2 separate regions of the Homo sapiens genome follow, and region 1 is linked to region 2. Evidence: fine-mapped QTL for protein levels in blood plasma. Region 2 holds a variant in brackets. A gene starts in the other region. All regions are shown on their forward strands. Region 1 holds the start of VNN1 (vanin 1). Region 2 has its middle 37 kb from the start of LIPC.

What was found. PIP is the chance, under the fine-mapping model, that this variant and not a neighbour inherited with it causes the effect. Protein levels are from antibody-based Olink assays in UK Biobank. Linkage for the fine-mapping came from a reference panel and not from the study's own genotypes, which makes the PIPs less certain.
Region 1: VNN1 starts here. The variant in region 2 is fine-mapped to the plasma level of the VNN1 protein (UK Biobank, PIP 0.97).

The regions. Positions count from the first base shown.
Region 1 is chr6:132,711,980-132,716,376 of GRCh38, forward strand. VNN1 (vanin 1) reads right to left here and starts at 2,076. Exons shown (of 7, transcript NM_004666.3): 1 at 1,847-2,076. The coding sequence starts at 2,056.
Region 2 is chr15:58,393,004-58,397,400 of GRCh38, forward strand. No RefSeq gene overlaps it. Among named protein-coding and RNA genes, the nearest start is that of LIPC, 37 kb to the right of the region's middle. The variant T/C (reference allele first, on the strand shown) is at 2,401.

The DNA.
Region 1 (4,397 bases), not on the chromosome of region 2:
TTCCAAAGCATTTTAATTTCCTTTTTTTTCAGTGCACTGTCACTTCTTTTTCTTTTTCTTTTCTTTTCTTTATTTCTAATTTTAGATTCAAAGGGTACAAATGCAGGTTTGTTGCATGGATATGTTACATAATGGTGAGGTTTGGGCTTCTAGTCAAGCATTTTTTTTTCTCTCTTTTTTTTTTTTTTCAGATGGAGTTTCGCTCTGCTGCCCAGGCTGGAGTGCAATGGCTAGATCTCGGCTTACCACAATCTCCACCTCCCGGGTTCAAGCGATTCTCCCGCCTCAGCCTCATAAGTAGCTAGGATCACAGGCATCTGCCACCACGCCTGGCTAATTTTTGTATTTTTAGTAGAGATGGGGTTTCTCCATATTGGTCAGGATGGTCTTGAACTCCCAACCTCAGGTGATCCGCCTGCTTCAGCCTCCCAAAGTGTTGGAATTACAGACATGAGCCACCGCACCTGGCTTAGTCAAGCATTTTAATTTTCTAATCCTGCCATTGTTGTTTCCTATGGCAGTCGTTAACTATAAACCTAGCTTATCCTGGAACCAAGCCTCTCCTTGAACTTTCGCTGATGACTGTGCCTGTGTCAAGACTGATTAATAACTTAAATATTCTGTTTATTTCCTCCTCTGCCCTAGCTTTCCCCTGCAAACATGATTCCTGCTTCTCAGAAAAAGAGGAGCCACAAACTGGTTACTTGAACTGTCCCATGCCTACAAGTACTGCCTGAGCTAACCTGGGCACCTTCCAATTAGAGAGTCACCTTAAAAAGCTCTGTGACCTTCAAGGAAATAGTTGGACTAAGGATGAAAAAGAACATCAGAACTCCTGATAACCTTTTAAATATTAGTATATATAAGAATATAGGGCAGTCACGGTAGCTCATGCCTGTAATCCCAGCACTTTGGGAGCCCAAGGCAGGTGGATCACCTGAGGTCAGGAGTTCAAGTACAGCGTGGGCAACATGGCAAAATCCCATCTCTACAAAAAATACAAAACTTAGCTGGGCACGGTGGCATGCATCTGTGGTCCCAGCTACTCTGGAGACTGTAGTGGGAGAATCACCTGAGCCCGGGAAGTCAAGGCTGCAGTGAGACGTGATCACACCACTATACTCCATCCTGGGTGACAGAGTGAGACCTTAACTCAACAACACAAAAGAATATATATTTATAGATATATGTAATACACATTTATCCATGACTTTTATCACACTTCATGTATTCCTGGTCTACACCTAATCGATCAATAGCTTTTAAAATAATATTTGTGTAAACCACAATTTATACTGTATGATTAACTTCAAACTGAAACCTTCACTAAACTTAAGGACTCACAATGCATTACATATACTTTTATCTTGTAATTAGAATGAAGTGTGAAGTATATAATGCATGCTGGCAAGGAATTGAAAACTTAAATTTGTTTTCAGATTATAAATTTATTCGAAAACCTGCAAAGCCTTAATAGCACATGAGTACATGAAGGCCACTAATACTCTGAAAATAGCACCTAGTCCCTGACCCATTTATCCTCCATCCTCCATCTGTACCAGAAAAGGGGAACAAAGATGTTGAATTTATGGCCAGTTCCTCAAAGGTCTGCTGCTTCTTGATAATGAGCAAATTGTTCTTTTCTTAACTTTGTTCTTACTTTTAGGGAAGTCCTTGCTCTAATTTTGAGAGGAAAGTAGAATTCTAACTGTAAAATAAAGGTTCTTGGCTACTCTGATACATATATCATCTAAAAGTGTAACTGACCCTGACAGTGGCCCTGTCTCCTAGGACCCCCTCCTTTCTCATAGAATCCAGTACACTGGAGAGATGGTAGAGATGGTACCTGATCTGCTGCTGATGTGATCGCTCCTTCCAAAATGTCCAGATTCCGATTCATTAATGCCAAAGCCTCCTCACGAGACACTGGTGTTAGGGTGGCATTGGGCAATATCGCTGCATGCTCATAAACAGCTGCAGTGAAAGTGTCCTGGCAGCTGGCTCTTGAGACATAGAAAAGCAAAATTGCCACGTAAGCTGGCAACTGAGTAGTCATGCTGAAGTCCAATGAGTGCTGAAAAACAGAGCATGTCCTGGTATTTATAGAAAGAAGACACGTGGTGTCCAGAACTTAGTACCTTAAACTACGGAAGTTAATTAAGAAAACGCTATGATTTCATAGCATTGTTACATAACAAAAGACCCTACCTTATTGCAGTAATTTGTGAAGATTAACTCAAGAACTCTATGTACATTAGTTCGCTAGGGCTGCCTAACAAAATACAATAAACTGGGTGGTGTAAAAAATAAAAAATTTATTGCTTTGCAGTTCTGGAGGGTGGGAGTCCCAGATGAAGGTGTCAGCAGAGTTGGTTCCTCCTGAGGGCGGTGAAGGAAAGATGTGTTCCAGGCCTCTCTCCTTGACCCATAGATGGCTGCCTTCTCCCTGTGTCTCTTCATATGCTATTCTCCCCATGTGTGTGCCTGTATCCAAGTTTTCCCTTTTTGTGAGGACACCACTCTAATCTTTAACACAGGGAAAGGGAAAATCCCAGCTCTAGCTTTTTTTGTCATCGTTGTTGTTTGTTTATTGTTGTTGTTGTTTGAGATGGAGTTTCACTCTTGTCACCCAGGCTAGAGTGCAGTGGCGAAATCTCGGCTCACTGCAACCTCCGCCTCTCGGGTTCATGTGATTCTCCTGCCTCAGCCTCCCAAGTAGCTGGGATTACAGGCGCCCGCCACCACGCCAGGCTAATTTTTTGTATTTTTAGTAGAGATAGGGTTTCGCCGTGTTGGGCAGGCTGGTCTCAAATTGCTGACCTCAGGTGATCCACCTGCTTTGTTTTTATGCCAAATAAGGGCAGAAGAAAAAAGCCAACTGAAGGTCATAAACCCAGGGGTACAGGCTCACTGAAAGACTGAGACTCAATCATAGGACCAATTCGATTTAGTGCCCACTGTACTCCAGTATAACTTCATCTTAACTAATTAGATCTGAAATGACCCCTTTTCCAAAAAAGTTACATTCTAAGATACTGACAGTTAGGACTTCAACATATAAATTTTTGGAATTCATATATTTTGGAATGTCAACACAAGACATTCAAATAATTTTAAAACTTTATTATTATTTTCATGTGAATATTTCAGCTCTACACTTTGATTTACTTTATTTTCCTCAAAATGGGGAAGCCAGGACAAAGAGGAATACAAAAGAGTTACTCATTTTCTATTGCTATATAACAAATTATCCCCAAATTCAGCAGCTTCAAAAAGCAAAAATACATCATCTCCCACTTTCTCTGGGTCAGGAATCCAGGGGCAGTTTAGCTGGTGCCTCTGGCCCAAGGTCTCTTTCACAAGGCTGCAGTCAAGCAGCTGCCAGGGCTAGCTATATCAAGGCTTGACTCCAGGAGGATTCACTTCCGAGCTCCAAGCTCCCTCATGTGGCTGACGGCAGGGATCAAGACCTCATTGGTTGTTGCCCAGAGACATGAGTTCCTAGTGATGCAAACCTCACCATAGGGCAGCCCGCATTATGGTATCTGGATTCCCTTAGAGCCAGACAGCAAGTGAACCCACTGGAGATGGAAGCCACGGATGCTTCGTAATGTAATTGGGGAAGCAACACCTCATCGCTTTTGTTGTATTCTATCCAATAAAGCATTAGGAACCATCTTTGAAGCTGCTTATCACAGAGGCAACAGAGGTGTATAAAGAATCAGAGCAAAAAAAAGAAAAAATGAGCTGGGGAGCGAGATCCAGAGAGAGGAGAGGGAAATTATATAAAATAGAAAAACTGTTCATAGATTTTGATATTGAGTAAGCTGGCAAATTTTGTTTCAGTTGTGCATTAAGTATAATATTTACAGAATTAGTGTTTATGTTTTTCCATTTTATTTTTAGATCTATTTGTCTTTGAATGGTATTTTTATAGTTCAATCTGCAAACAGGCATATCTAATTTTTTACTTTAGTAACTATAATGCATTTATTCTGCAATTGCCAAGGTAACCCAGGGGTTGTGGTTGGCTGGTTCTCCTGAGTTTCCGGTAAACACCAGCTTCTCTAACTGCTTGCTGACCTCTTAGGGCCTTTCCATGCCCAGGTGGGTGGGAATACCACATATTTCACAAAAAGATGTCATTATTATGTAACAATTTGTAAAAGGAAGCACTGAAATAAAAGTTAAAACTGAGATGAGTTGGCAAGAGGTTAAAAAATTACTTCTTGACCTTCTTAGATTAAAAATATTAAACCTCCCGTGGAGTTTCTAGTCCAACTCATAAAGAGCTTGGCAGTCATTTTTCCCATGCTCACACCAAGAAAAAAGCTAAACAAATGAAAATCGACAACTTTTCTAGGATGCATCAGAGAATTGAGATCACAGGATAAACT
Region 2 (4,397 bases):
ATCTAGCCTTGGTGGAGAAGGAGACTAAGAGACAGGAGAGCAGAAGATCAAAAAAAAACTTTTGCTTCTGAGCTCTTCATTGTGGGGTATCACCAACATTAGCAAGCCCCTTTCAGGACTTTCCCAACTCTTTTCAATAGCCTGTTTTCACAGATCTCTCAAAACTCAAGGATTTCAATGTCACTATTCAAGCTGAAAACATTTTCCCCTGCAACCTCCTTGTTAAATCTGTAGTTTGGACAAGGAAGCAATAAAGCAAGCATGTGCAGGCTGCTGCTTTGAGTAGCCAGCTGAGAAATGATTCCCACTAGGGTGGGTGTGGGTGTGTGTGAGTGTGTGTGTGTGTGTGTGTGTGTGCGTTGTAGGGAGAGAAAAAATGCAATGTACACAGCAGGATGACCCACAGATTCTGAGAACACAGTGTCAGTCTGCAGAAGGCAGGCACTTTTACACTTCTGAGCAATCAGCACCTTTATGTGCAATTTATTTCCAGTTTTAAAAAAAATGAGGTGGGTGGTTCCTCCGTCAAAGTTACCTCCCTGACTTTTAACGGCTCATTAAACGGGAAAGGATTGAGAGGATCCTTAATGGTGAATGGGGCTGGAGGCTCGGCCACTGAAAAGGACTGGGTAGACTGAACCTAGAAAGGAGAAGCTAATAGGGCCCAGAGTGGCTGCCTTCAAATATCTGCAGGGCTGACAGTGTGGACAGGAATTAAATATGCTATGTGTAGGAGCAAGTTGCAGAGAGCAGGTTTCAGTGCAACATACCAAATGTTTTTCTGCTACTTAGAATAGTCTAAAAATATAATCCCCTGTCAAGGAGTAGTGAGTTTCCCATCATTAGAGTTATGCAAGCAGAGGCTGCATGACCATTTTGCAGGGATGTAGTAATTATTTCAAACATTAAAGCCATTTCCAATTATATAGTTCCCAAATTTAAAACTTCCATTGCCTATTTGGACATAAGGGGTAGATTCAGCTTATTTGCTTTGCCTTCTGCAGGCTTGACTCCATACCAGTGATAGAAAGAGTTTCCATCTCCAAGGTGAGCTCCTGTCGATTGTTACTGGATGACTGGACCACTATGTGGAGGTTTCCGAGGCTATGAAATGTGATCGATTAGTGATGCTAAGGACAAAAGGAAAGAGCAAAGGAGGCCCACTTTTCATGTGTATTGTATATGCAGCAGCTATATATAGTTTAGGATAAGATTTTTAAAACATTTTAAATCTAATTTCCCTTCTCGATAAGCAAAATTCTTTCCTTTCCACCATTACGGTTAGGGCATGAGACTTATTGCCTCAGGGAAGGGGCAGCTGGATCTCCCTAGAAAAAGGAGACTATGGGGTAAGGAAGAAAGATATAATGTAGGGCAATTTCCAGCAGACAGAAGGGTAAGTAGCAGCCCTTCTTCAGAGAAAGTGAAGAGGACCGGAGAGGGTGAAATGGGAAGAAGGAGCTTCCAGAGACCTCCCTGCCCTGCCTCCGAGCCTCACTCAGGGCAGGGAGTAAGGACAGATGGAAATCTGGGGTAGGATGAAGGGAAAGACGAACACCAAGGAGGATCCACAGTGCTTCTTGTTTGGCCATCTCATGCTGCCCTACGCCAACCACACAAGGCAGCCACAGCAGGTCAGAATGACAGGGTGGTGTGTGTGAGAGAAGAGGGCCACAGCAGGGGTCCAGAACATCTCTGTTCACAGGTGGTGTGGAAGTGTCTGGAGTTCTCAAATGTGCTAGTGAGGGATACAGAGTTGAGAGCAAGGGGCTGGGCTTGAGTGGCCATTGTGAGTCGCCAAGTGACACAGTTGATTGCCAGAGGTTCTATAAGGCCATTGAGGTCAGAGATGGACATCACATCAACAAGGAAGCCACCAAGCCCGGAAGGTGCTAAAAGAGCACACCCAGGGGACCCCACCATGAATGTGTCAGTAGCAGGTGCACAAGGACAGAGGCCATGGCCAGAAAGAGTCCCGCTGGAGGTCAGAGGAAGCTGGGACACACAGCACTCTCACCAGGAACCTCTCCCTGAAGCAGAGAGGATGCAGAAGCTTCTCTTGTTTGAAGGCACTGAGGAATGTCAGAGGGAGGGGAGACCCTCTGAAATCACCCACAGGGAGTCTGAACTTCAAATTGACTAATTGCTACAAAGGCCATTTTAACCCAGAAAAGACTGAGTTGTTTTTAATTCACAAGTATAAGTCATAGTGTGTGGCATGATGGAAGTGGAACTGACCTTTCCAAATCTGAGTATGGCCACGGCAGCATCTCCACCGTCTCCCTCACACACACATGCTGTAAGTTCATGTGCAGTCAATCATGAGCGCCTGTCAAGGTGTAGCTAGAGCAGAAAGATCTGGAAGCCTTCTTGAAAGCAGAAGGAAAGAAGGAAGACGAT[T/C]AGGTGGGCGAGAGCATTGGGGGTGTGGTAGGAAAGAAAAAGAGGGAGAAATCCACCTGAAGGATAGCAATAACTAACACTATCGAATGTTTCTCACATAGCAGGCACTTTGCATCCTCATAACTCCAAGTGTGGCCTGGAGACCAGCAGGCATCACCCAGAGCTTGTTAGAAATACAGAATGTCAGCTTACTCCCTAGACCTACTGACTAAGAACCTGCGTTTTAATGTGATCCCAGGTGACTTGTGTGCTTGTTAGAGTTTGAGAGGTGCTACATTACATGATTTAATGTCATTAGTTTAATTCAACAATTCTATCCATTCAAAATGATTTTCTCATTTTGCAGATGAGGAAGCTGAGATCCAGCCAAGTTCACATATCTAGTAAGTGACAGAACCTAGATACCAACCCAAGCATCCTGACTCCAGAGCCTTCTTCGCTGTACCAAAGGCTTAGGTCACTCCACTTGTTTGTTTCTGGTCAAACATGTGTTGACAATTGTGTGGATGCACACCTAGAATGTTTTGGAAAGATCTGTGAAAATATGGCAGTGACAAGATTTCCTTTTCCAATATGTTTTCCAAAGTAAAACACCAGACATTCATGATTCAACCCATGTCTGGGATTCTGCACGATCAAGTGCCCTCAGTATTTTAAGCTTTTGGATAATTCATAGCTATCATGTCTAAATTGTTCTGCTTGTTCTAAATTTGCCCTGCATGTGTACCTTTCAAGATAAGTTCTTTCAGCTGATAAACTCCTGTTTTTAAATGCAAATGTGTTTTGAAATGTATCTGTTCCATCATTTCTCCCTCAAAATCATACTATAGCTGAATTACTCAAAAGGAATTCTAGCAAAGCACACAACATTTTCGAGCATAAGCCTGTGATGCTTTTCATCTAAAAAGGTGACTAACAGCTTGCATAAGCTTATAACCAGACTTAAAGCTTAAAATCCCTGTGGAGTTTGCAAAGGGCATTGCGAAAGCCAGCCAAACCTGGGAGACATAAATGTCTTTGCATGCTGACTTATCTACCAGTCACGAAACCAGTCTGGTTTAAAATTGCTGTTATTCATTTCAGCTCCACAACCTTTATTTTCATGACAGTGAGTTGAAATAGCACTCTTACCTCTGTTAAGAAAAACAAGAAATGACTTCTATCTAACAAATGTTAATTAGGGCACACGATGTGGTGGAAAGAGTCATGAAGTGAGATGAAACCTGTGCACTGATATGTGGCATCGGGTGGGTAATTATAAACATACACTTGAAAAAAAAATGAATGACATGGAGTCCCGGGTCCAGAATTAACCAGTTTTGTGGCCCTGGGGGAAGACACTCTCCTCTCTAAGTTCATTTTCCTTGGACTCAGTGATTTCCTAAGATTCCTTCTCACTTCGCAGTCTCAAATTTAAAATCAGATCTTAATTATGTACTAAGTAAATATAGCATACTTAATTTGAAGGATGGCATACTGATAAAGATAGTTAAGAAGATGACAAGGCAGCATGGAAATTAGTCGTTACATAATACAGAACACAAAATGTTGTTTATGATCTCCAAAACTACGTAAGATGCTGCATGCATTTGAACAAAAGCTGAAAGGAAAGAGCGGGCAAAGAAAACAGAGTGAGATCACAGGTGGGTCACCTTTCCTTATATTTTGATGCCACTATTTGCTTTTTGTTTTATGTTTAAAAGCGATACTTTTAGGGAAGCATTTCTTCATGTTTTATGGAAGAACTGTTTGCCTGGCAGTTTGCTGTCATTTATTTTCTCAGCTTCCAAAATAGTGTTAGCCAGGTTGATCTCGTTGCTATTTATGGACTGTGTTACCTTCCAGAGCTCAATATTGTTTCCAAAGTTGTCACAGCAAGGCAGCCCCCATCCTCTCAGCCCAAACCCGCAACCACAGCCACGGGCTCTACCCTTGCTTTTCCCTACACTGCTGATGGGGAGAGGACAAATACTGAACAGAAAGGTCAAACTGGAGCA